2 separate regions of the Homo sapiens genome follow, and region 2 is linked to region 1. Evidence: fine-mapped expression QTL. A gene starts in region 1. The other region holds a variant in brackets. All regions are shown on one strand. Distances are from middle to middle.

Evidence for each region. PIP is the estimated chance that this variant, and not a neighbour inherited with it, causes the effect.
Region 2: its variant is fine-mapped to the expression of ESPNL in fibroblasts (GENCORD, PIP 0.95).

What each region holds. Positions count from the first base shown.
Region 1 is chr2:238,098,391-238,103,467 of GRCh38, forward strand. It overlaps ESPNL (espin like), which reads left to right and starts at 1,950. Exons shown (of 9, transcript NM_194312.4): 1 at 1,950-2,323; 2 at 3,551-3,741. The coding sequence starts at 2,030. SCLY (selenocysteine lyase) reads left to right here. Exons shown (of 12, transcript NM_016510.7): 12 at 1-1,023. It overlaps UBE2F-SCLY (UBE2F-SCLY readthrough (NMD candidate)), which reads left to right. Exons shown (of 19, transcript NR_037904.1): 19 at 1-1,023. RefSeq lists enhancers at 1-463, 98-392, 4,158-4,327.
Region 2 is chr2:238,123,434-238,128,510 of GRCh38, forward strand. ESPNL (espin like) reads left to right here. Exons shown (of 9, transcript NM_194312.4): 6 at 1,837-1,951; 7 at 4,189-4,301. Among named protein-coding and RNA genes, the nearest start is that of KLHL30, 13 kb to the right of the region's middle. RefSeq lists a silencer at 3,972-4,031. The variant G/GTC (reference allele first, on the strand shown) is at 2,937.

The DNA.
Region 1 (5,077 bases):
GCCCGTGGCAGGGCACAGGGTTGTCCCTCCAGTTCCCTCCTGAGGGCTGTGCCAGGATGACTGTCTCATGCCCCCTCTGCATTTTGTCCTGGAGTGCCAGCGAGTGTGCACCCCCAGTTTCCTTCCCTGGACCCCTGCAGAGCTCACAGGGCCCAGGACACCAACGCCGCATAGGACTGCCCACATGGGACCGCCCACATAGGACCGCCCACATAGGACCGCCCACATGGGACCGCCCACATGGGACCGCCCACATGGGACCGCCCACATAGAACCGTCCTCCAGTGGTGAAGCGGAAACACTTAGCTTTATCCACCCTCCCCACTGGGAACTGGGCACGCCTGTTGTGAGTGCCCTTTCCTGGAAGGTGTTTTTATCTGGAAGATAGAATCCAAGTATTTATAACTCATTGTCAGCCAAATGCTATCATGAACGTAGGAAACTTGATTTTTTTGTTTTGATCATGGCCTCTACATGCACCTTTCCAGAGTGGTCTCTTCTCAGGCCCTTTTTAGTCCCTTTCCAAAGCTGCCCCCACCACCCTGCTCCTCTGGCCTCAGTGCACAGTGGCCCCCAGCCTCGGCCAGGCCTGCTCTGCTCAGCGCCCACCGCCCACCACCCCTCCTGCTTCCCCGAGCCTGACCCTGTTCCGCCCACTGGCAATCAGGGCTGCGCACTTCCCTGTCCACGGTCCCCAGGCCTTCCTGTCTTGTCCCTTTTGATCATTATTAACTCAGGGTTTCAGCTCCAACCTCGCTGAGTTGGTGCAGCTCCAGGTCATTCCTGGGGTGGGAATCGGATCATCCCTGACTCAGCTTTTACCTTAATTTTATTTGCAGAGGATTCTTTTCTCAAAATGCTCTGGCATTTGGACACACATCACATGTCGATATTTGCATAGGAGTCATTTTCAGTGGAATAACATTTTTAATGTGTGGTTTTACGGTTCAAGGAACTACTTGATGATTTTGAGGAAACACTTGCCAGAAACTAAATTAACGAATAAAAGATTTCAGTGCCCGACTTGGGGATCCTGTGGTTTCTCTAGTGGGCACTGCGCTTGGGCACAAAGTCATCTGACAGAGCCTGTCGGGGGGAAGCCAGGGGTGCAGCAGCCCCCAGGTCACCATTGTGTGATGATGCGTTAGCCCAGAAATCCAGCTTGAGGCTGTGTCTCCGGAAGCCCCTACAAATGTAATGGGTCCCCCATCTGCAGCTTCCCATTGCTGCCAGGAAGAGGCTGTGGTGGTCCTGACTTCCCTAAAGAAGAACTATGGATTGTCCAGAACAATCTGGAAAGGGGTTAAATGTACTTGGGCCCTTGGGGCTGCAGCCCAGAGACTTGGTCCGTGTAGTTGGAGAGGGGGCCGAGGCAGGGGCTGACACCTTCTCGCCTCAGAGGCCTGGACACACCCAAGTCAGGGTCCTGAGCCCATTGCAGGCCCCGTGGAGCCACTGTGTCCCCAGAGATTCCTAGGAGCCTCCAGGGCCGAGGGCCGGGACCCAGAGGCGGGGCGCTCAGCTCTGTGGGTGTCAACACAGCCAAACATGTAGACCTACTGGGCACCCTTTACTTCAGACACACTGTGGTGGCGGCTGGGGGTCTGCCCTTCTGTGAGAGTTGGGGGAACTGTCTCCCAGGCCACTCGGGGCTCCTGTGAGAAGCTCAGTGGCGTGTATCCTCAGCCCTCGCTCCACAGATGAAGTTCCTGCCATCTGGACAGATCTGAGCAGCCTCAGGGCCAGCCTCCTTTCTCTGCTGGCCATACCCAGCCCTGACCTAGCCTGGTGTGGGCCTTTCCCTGTGCCCTGTACTCCATCCTCCCAGCTCCAGGCACCTGGCACCCTCACACTGTGGGAGTGGCTTGGGCAGGTCCTCAAGGCCTGTCCCCCCACCCGACCCCACCCCACCGCCTCCCATCTGCCCTGTGGCAGCTTATCGGGTAACCAGAGCCGGCAGCTTCATCCACGTCTGAAACAGGAAGCCCCAGCCTGTGCATGAGTCGCCACTGAGAGCCCGGGCCAGAGGATGGAGAAGCAGCGGGCACTCGTGGCCGCCAAGGATGGGGATGTGGCGACGTTGGAGCGGCTGCTGGAGGCTGGCGCCCTGGGCCCGGGCATCACCGATGCTCTGGGGGCCGGCCTGGTTCACCACGCCACCCGGGCTGGCCACCTGGACTGCGTCAAGTTCTTGGTGCAGCGGGCCCAGCTGCCCGGCAACCAGCGGGCCCACAACGGGGCCACCCCAGCGCATGACGCCGCTGCCACGGGCAGCCTGGCCGAGCTGTGCTGGCTGGTCCGCGAGGGGGGCTGCGGTCTGCAGGTGAGCGGGGATGGGGCAGCCTGGCTCCACGAAGCTGGCTGGGGTGGAACCAGGGAGGTGTGAGCCACGGAGGATCAGAGTACTGGCCACCCCGGGCTCCATGGCCCTGGGCCCTTTGTTTCTCTTGGGGACTCAGTCAGTGGTTACCGTCTCTGCCCCACGCCTCTCAGAGCACAAAGGCTTGAGAGCCAAGAACACCTCCTAAATTTTCTTATCACCTTCCCTGCCAGGAAGCTGGGCGTTGCCAGTGGGGGTCTTGCCAGATATCAGGACCCCTGTCTCTGATCAGGCCTGGTCCACAGGGCCTGCCTCCCAAAGGGTCTAGAAAGGGATCCTTACAGAAGCACTGTGGGAACTTGGGCTTGAGAGCTGGGAGCCTAGCCCTGGGGGACGGGAGTTAGGGCTGCTGATGGTGATCGTCTTGTCCGGATCGTTTCTACTGGGCCCCCCTCCCCTATCCTGCCTGCCCAGTCCCCTTTGTGCAGGCGAGGCCCTTAGAGCTGTCGCTCAGCCCTGTGGAGCTTTCAGGGCTGAGGGTGAGCAGGACTGACCGGCCTTAGAACGCCGCCGCCCAGAGGTCAGAGTTGAGGTGGGGGCCGGTGGGGCCTGCTTAGACTGCGGAGCGGGAAGGTTCCCCAGCACCTGGCTCGCCAGAGCACCTGAGAGTCCCGGCCCAGCATCCTGTTCCTGTCGGCCCTTCCGCCAAACCCAAGGGCAGCAGGCGGGAGCTGTGCCTGCCTGGGGATCCATTCTGACAGGGCCCTTGGAGAAGGCCCAGGTCTGCTGGACCCCTGACACCTGTGGTAGGAACGCTCCCTGGCCCCGGGACCCTGTGGCCAGCGGGAGGGCACTGGGGCAGGGGACCAGCCAGAGGTAGGTGTCCTGGGAAGCCTTTCTGACCATGAGCAGAGTGGGCAGGTGTCTGCGGGCACCCGACTGCGTGGGAAAGGGCCTTCTCCACACTGGGGACGGGCCCAGGAGAGGGCAGGGTTGCCAGAGGTGGCCTCCCAAGACCTGGACCTGAGTCCTGGCCCTCCTCTCACCTCAGTCCCAGCAGGGAGCACCTCCCTCCATGTTGCAGGCAGAAACGGAGGGAAGGAGGAAGGAGCTGGAAGCCCCTTCACTGGGTTGCAGGCAGTGTGAGCCCTCGCCCAGGGCCCACCTCCGGCAGCTGGCTCTGACCTCACGGCCTACCCCCCACTCACTGACCTACCCGGGGCTTGGTAGGACCAAGATGCCTCGGGCGTCTCCCCGCTGCACCTGGCCGCCCGTTTTGGACACCCAGTGCTGGTGGAGTGGCTGCTCCACGAGGGCCACTCGGCCACGCTAGAGACCCGGGAGGGAGCCCGGCCGCTGCACCACGCTGCCGTCAGTGGGGACCTGACCTGCCTCAAGCTCCTGACAGCCGCGCATGGCAGGTAAGGAGCCCAAAGTCCCGCCTGGGGGGGCAGCCTGGGGCGAGCTGGCCAAGGGGAGGCTGCACCATGGAGGGCCAAGAGGACAGGCTGGTGGCCTTTGAGGTGAATCCTGCAGGCGGGCATGCTGTCACTGTGGGGGTGAGCTGGCAGGAGCCAAGGGCAATGAGGCCTCTACCCACAGGCCAGGCAGTGGCAGTGCCATGCCAGGGCCCAAGGGGACACAGGCCAGTGCTTCAGCTTGGAGAGTGGCTGGGGGCGGTGACGATGGCAAGATGCTGCTGTGATGCCCAGGGCAGCTCTGGCCCCACCTGGGGGCATCTCGGGACCTAAAACAGCTGGGGACGTGGGCAGCTGGCAACCTGTGAGGGCACCCTCCCATCACCTGACAGGAGTGGGGACTGTCTAGTGGACTTGGGGACACAGAGGCTGGAGCTGCCTCTGCACTGCCCCACCCCTGTGCTGGGACCCCTAGAGCCGGGCGCTGGCCTCATCGTCTCTGGGGCCCTGTGCCCCCTGCTGGAATTAGTGGATGGGCAACGAGGAAGGACCAGGGTCAGGACAGCCAGTAAGGCAGATGGCCTCCCTCCCCACCTGGAAGCTCCTCCAGTCCTCGCCCTGCTTACAAAGGTCACTGTTGTCATAGGAACAGGCCCTCTGCCTCCTACTGTCTTGGCTGAGGGCGAACCTTCCTGTCCCCCAGGGACCCACCTACCTCTGACCACGGCTCTTCTCTTTTCGAGGCAGCATCTCATTTTCCTGTCGCTGCCCCAGAGGCCTCAGTCCCCCACACCCCCTTAGCTCCAGGACAAGCCCCGACAGCTTGCTTGTGGAATCGGGTTCTCATTCCCGGGTGTTCCCATCCTGGACTGCTTGGCAAAGGCCTTTGGGATTCGCTTCTGTGGCTTTTCTCCAGAGCGTCCACACCACCCTCAGCCTTGGCTGGCCACAGTCTCTCTCAGACCCACACGGCTTTTAAAGAAGTTTCCACCATTGAAAACTGGGAGACTTGGGCCGAGCACAGTGGCTCATGCCTGTAATCCCAGCATCTTGGGAGGCTGGGGCTGGAGGATTGCTTGAGCCCAGGAATTCAAGACTGGCCTGGGCAATGTAGCGAGACCTCCATCTCTACAAAAAAATTTATTTAAAAATTAGCCAGGCATGGTGGTGACTGCCTGTAGTCCCAGCAACTCAGGAGGCTGAGGTGGGAGGATCACTTGAGTCTGGGAGGCGGAGGTTGCAGTAAGCTGGGATTGTGCCACTGCACTCCAGCCTGGGCGATAGAGCAAGACCATGTCTCAAAAAAAAGAAGAAAACCAGGAGGCTTCATGTTAATATG
Region 2 (5,077 bases), 25 kb after region 1:
GGGGGCCGTACCGTAGGTGGGGCTGGGGATTCCTCTGGGTGGTCTCTCTTCTCATGGGGCCCAGGGATCTCAGGTCCCCTTCCATCTCCCAGAGCATCCCCTCCCCGGCCCCTGCTCTGTGGACAGTTAAAGGTTCCGTGGTAACAGATCCCACACCCGGCCCAAGCCCGCCTGGCCACCTGACACCTCGGCCTTCAAATATTCATGTGACACCTCCCACTCCTGGGGGCGGCAGCCTCAGCAGCCCCCGGTGTCCCAGGACAGCTGTGCTCCCTGCACTCTGCAGTTCGCGTCTGAGGGCCTCCGGGGCTGGGGCTGGGCGGTTGCTCCCCAGCCCACCGCGCACCAGGGTTCCTGGGCTGTGGGCACAGATTCCTGGAAGGAGTGAGGTGCGTGGGGGCCGGGCAGATGGGCTTTCAGACTGTGTTCCCTTCCCCGTGGCCCAGTGGGGTGAGGGTCCTGGAGGGGAGGTGGCCGAGGGGCCACCCAGCATCCTTGCTGGGAGGCAGCCTGTGCCACCTTGTCCATGAGCAAGGGAGGCTTAGGGAGGCCAGAGATTTGCTCAGGCAGGGCCAACTTCACTGCAGTCCGGCCCCGGTGCAGCAGGAAAATGGGGGCCCTGCATTCGGAAAGGAGAACGAATTTGAAGGCAGAGACAGCCGTGCATTCGAGCAAGCTGCAGCATGGGTCCCTCCCCCTCCCACGACGGGCCCTGGGCCCAGGCCACATGTCCAGAATCGTGGCCGATTTGAGTGCTCTGCTCTGCCCAGGGCTCTCACTAGCACTGACCCTGGAGCCCTGATGGCCACGTCTGGCTTCCAGTGCCCACTGGAGGGCAGGGACAAGAGCTTTGGTCTGACAGGCACAGTGGGGGAGGTGCCCAGAGGGACGGTGGCATGCGGCCCTGCTGGCTGGGGACAAGGGCTGCCCATGCCCTCGGCTGGTGGGCACATTGGGGACCCCATCCTAGTCCACTGCCCTTCCCTCTCCTCACCAGGTTTCTCACTTGGCCATCCACCCCCAAGACACTGACAGGCCCCATGTCAGGGCTGAAGTTCCAGGCGGACCACAGCACAGGAGTCAGGGCAGTCGGGGAGGGGGGTGTGCGGGAGAGTGTACGTGCGTGTGTGCAGGAGAGTACGTGTGTGTGTGTGCAGGAGAGTGTACGTGTGTGTGCAGGAGGGTACATGCGTGTGTGTGCAGGAGAGTGTACGTGCATGTGTGCAGGAGAGTGTACATGTGTGTGTGTGCAGGAGAGTACGTGCATGTGTGTGCAGGAGAGTACGTGCATGTGTGCAGGAGAGTACATGCATGTGTGTGCAGGAGAGTGTACATGCGTGTGTGCAGGAGAGTACGTGCGTGTGTGTGCAGGAGAGTGTACGTGCATGTGTGCAGGAGAGTACATGCATGTGTGTGCAGGAGAGCATACATGCGTGTGTGTGCATATGTGTGCACATGTCTTTGTGAGACCACAGGGCGCTGGGCACAGCTGGAAACCAGGCCCTAACCCAGTACCCGGAGCCCCAGAGCTCAGCTGCCTCCAGAGGGAGCCTGGAAGCTGAGCTTTGAGATGGGGGTGGCCCACCCAATAGAGGTGAAAGTGGGCGGGGAACCAAGGTGGGGTGCCAGGAAGTGATGGCACTCAGGCAGGAGATGACCCTGGGACAGAACCCTGATCAAGGACCTGCCCCTCTCCTGCCACCTCCTTACCTGTCCCAGCCCTTCTCAGATGCACAGGCTCCCCAAGGCTCGTCCACTGGGTGCCCCTGCCCCTGTCTAGGTGAGCAGGGAAGAGCCCACGGGGGTCCCCCACTGACCAGGCCCATTCACCCACAGGTGCCCCTGCTGATGACGCCCCCACCACCACCGTTCCCCCCACCTCCACTGTTGGCCACGAGGCGCTCCCTGGAGGATGGAAGAAGAGGAGGCCCAGGGCCAGGGAACCCCAGCCGTGAGTGCACAGCCCCAAGTGGGCCACCCAGGGCATGGGCCTGGGAGAGGGTGCCACTGGCCTCCCCTCCGAGGTCCTGGACCGGTGGGCAAGTCTGCGGGCAGCCGGGCACCCCATCACCCTCCCTCCCCAGTTGCTTCCAGGTTTCCTTGACTGTCTTTGGTGCTTTGGAAACATGAGGATTAGCATTTTCCGTGGTGGGCACTTACAGCTACAGCAACTTATCCAGGGGTAAAAGCGGGGAGACGGGCCGGTTGGGCCCAGGCCCCTTGTGGATGGGCTGCTGTCCCTCAGACCCCAGCACACCTCGCATGCATGGGCTAGCAGGGCAAGCAACAGTCCTCACGCTGTGGGCCACCACCATTAGGGGTCTGTGACCAGCTTGGAGTGGAGTGGAGTGGAGTGGAGTGGAGTGGAGTGGAGTGGAATGGAATTATCAACAGGTGCCACAGGTAGTGAGGGCGAGCTTCCTCCACGGGCCCTGCTGCGGCCCTGTACTCACATGTGGGAGTGTGCTTCTGTGTGTGATTGTGTCTGTGTGTTCTGTGTGTGATACACATAGATACGGGGACCCTTCTCTGTGTGTGATTGTGTCTGTGTGTGATTGTGTCTGTGTGTATCTGTGTATGTTGTGTCTGTGTCTGTGTGTCTGTGTGATTATGTCTGTGTGTATGTGTGTGATTGTTCATGTGTGTCTGTGTGTGACTATGTCTATGTGATTGTGTGTCTCTGTGATTGATTGTGTCTGTGTCTGTGTGATTGTGTCTGTGTGCATCTGTGTGTGATTGTGTTCGAGTGTGTGATCGTGTCTGTGATTGTGTCTCTCTGTGATTGTGTCTGTGTCTGTATTGTATGTATGTGTATGGTGATTGTGTGTTCTGTACATCTGTGTATTGTGTTTGTGTTTCTGTGCATGATTGTGTATCTGTGTGTGATTGTGTCTGTGTGTCTGTATGTGATTGTGTGTGTGATTGTGTCTGTGTGT[G/GTC]TCTTTGTGATTGTGTGTCTCTGTATGATTATGCCTGTGTATGTGTGTTTGTGTTTGTGTGTCTGTGTCAGTGTGTGATTGTGTCTATGTGATTGTGTGTATCTGTGTGATTGTGTGTCTGTTCTGTCTGTTTCTGTGTGTGATTGTGTCTATGCATCTGTGTGTGATTGTGCCTGTGTGTATCTGTGTGATTGTGTTTGTGTGTGTCTGTGATTGTGTCTGTGTGTATCTGTGTGTGATTGTGTCCGTGTCTGTGTGTCTGTTCTGTGTTTCTGTGTGATTGTGTCTGTGATTGTGTCTGTGTGATTGTGTGTATGTGATTGTGTCTGTGTATGCTTGTGTCTGTGTGTCTCTGCGTATGATTGTGTCTGTGTGTATCTGTGATTGTGTCTGTGTATCTGTGTGTGATTCTGTGTGATTGTGTTTGTGTATGTCTGTTCTGTGTCTGTGTGTTTCTCTGTGTGTGACTGTATCTGTGTGTGATTGTGTCTGCGTGTGTGATTGTGTCTGTATGTCTGTGTGATTGTGTGATTGTGTGTGTATGATCGTGTCTGTGTGTCTGTGATTGTGTGTGTCACTGTTATTGTGTGTCTGTGTGTATGTGTGTGATTGTGTCTATCTGTGTGTGATTGTGTATCTGTGTGTGATTGTGTTTGTGTGTCTGTTCTGTGTGTGTTTCTGTGATTGTATCTGTGTGTATAATTGTGTCTGTGTGTATGATTGTGTCTGTGTCTGTATGTGATGTGATTGTGTCTGTGTCTGTGTGATTGTGTCTGTGTTGTGTGTATGTGATTGTGTCTGTGCATGTCTGTGTGTGATTGTGTCTGTGCGTGTCTGCCTGGCTGTGATGCAGACGTGTTCTTCACTCGAGGTTGACCCTGAAGTGTGTGTTTTCATCGGGGCAGGGAGCATTGCAGGCAGCAAGGGAACCAGCTTTGGGGCCTGCAGAGCTGCGTTAGGGGCGGCCTCAAGCCCTTCCCAGCTCCTCCCCTGCTGCAGGAGGGGCCGCGGCGTGGCCCAGCGGTGTGCCGCAGGCTCTCCCATCGACCAGGCGGGGGCGGGCCCCACTGACTCCCCAGAGAAGGTCCAGTGGGGCCCCCGAGGTGTTCTGGGGCAGGGTGGGCTGGGGTCAGCTCCCAGCTCGCAGATCGTTCAGGAGGTCAGCTCTGCCCCCAGGGCCGGATCCCCGAGGCTCTGGGTCTCTGCTCCCCAGCCCTTGCCCTTTCTGCAACACCCTTCTTCTTCTTGGCAGCCATGTCCCTCAGCCCGGCCTGGCCTGGCCATCCTGACCAGCCTCTTCCCAGGGAGCAGATGACCAGCCCGGCCCCTCCGAGGATCATCACCAGTGCCACGGCTGACCCCGAGGTTCGTCCTCCACCCCTGCATTCCTGTCTCCCGGGGCCCCTAGCCAGCCTCCATTCCCATCCTCTTAGGGGCCCAGAGAAGCCCCCAGCACAGCCAGGCCTTTCCTGAAGGGTGGATGCCAGGCTGCCTGCGTCACTCCGCTGCTCTCGAGAACACCCTGAGTTCTGAAGAGACAGGAATGTCAGGGCGACGGCAGCTGTCCCCCCCACCACAGAAACACGGGGACCCTTCTCTGTTATCCCAGAGGGCTGCAGTGGCCCAGGCCCCTCTCCCTGACCTCTGAGCTCAGGGGTGCTCCGTGCCCGCTTGGAGTGCGGAGATCGCAGCAGCCATCCATGGGCAGGGCCCCGCTGCCACCGTCCTCCTCCTCAGGGCCTCGGCCAGCCCAGACCAGCAGAAGGGTCCTGCTCCCCCTTACTCTCCCTTTCCTGGGCGCCGGGCCCTTAGAAAGCCAGCCCAGACTTTCCCTGCGTGGTACTGCAGATTCTCAACCATTGAGGTGTTCGGTGGGAGTCTGGGAAACGCCACGTGGCGCTGCTGCCCGTCGTGGAGAGCTGGAGCGCGCACGGCACATTGAAGGCTCTGACAAGCCCTCCGCGGCACAGGATTGGCTGCCAGGCTTTGTCTATGTAGCTGTGCCCAGAGCAAGTTTGCCCAGGGATACGGTGCGCTCCGCGAGCATCTGCTGGGCTTGCACAGGGGACGGGGAGGGACCTCTGGTTTCATTTCTCTGCCGACAATCCCCTCACACACATCTTACCCCGCCCCCTCCAGTC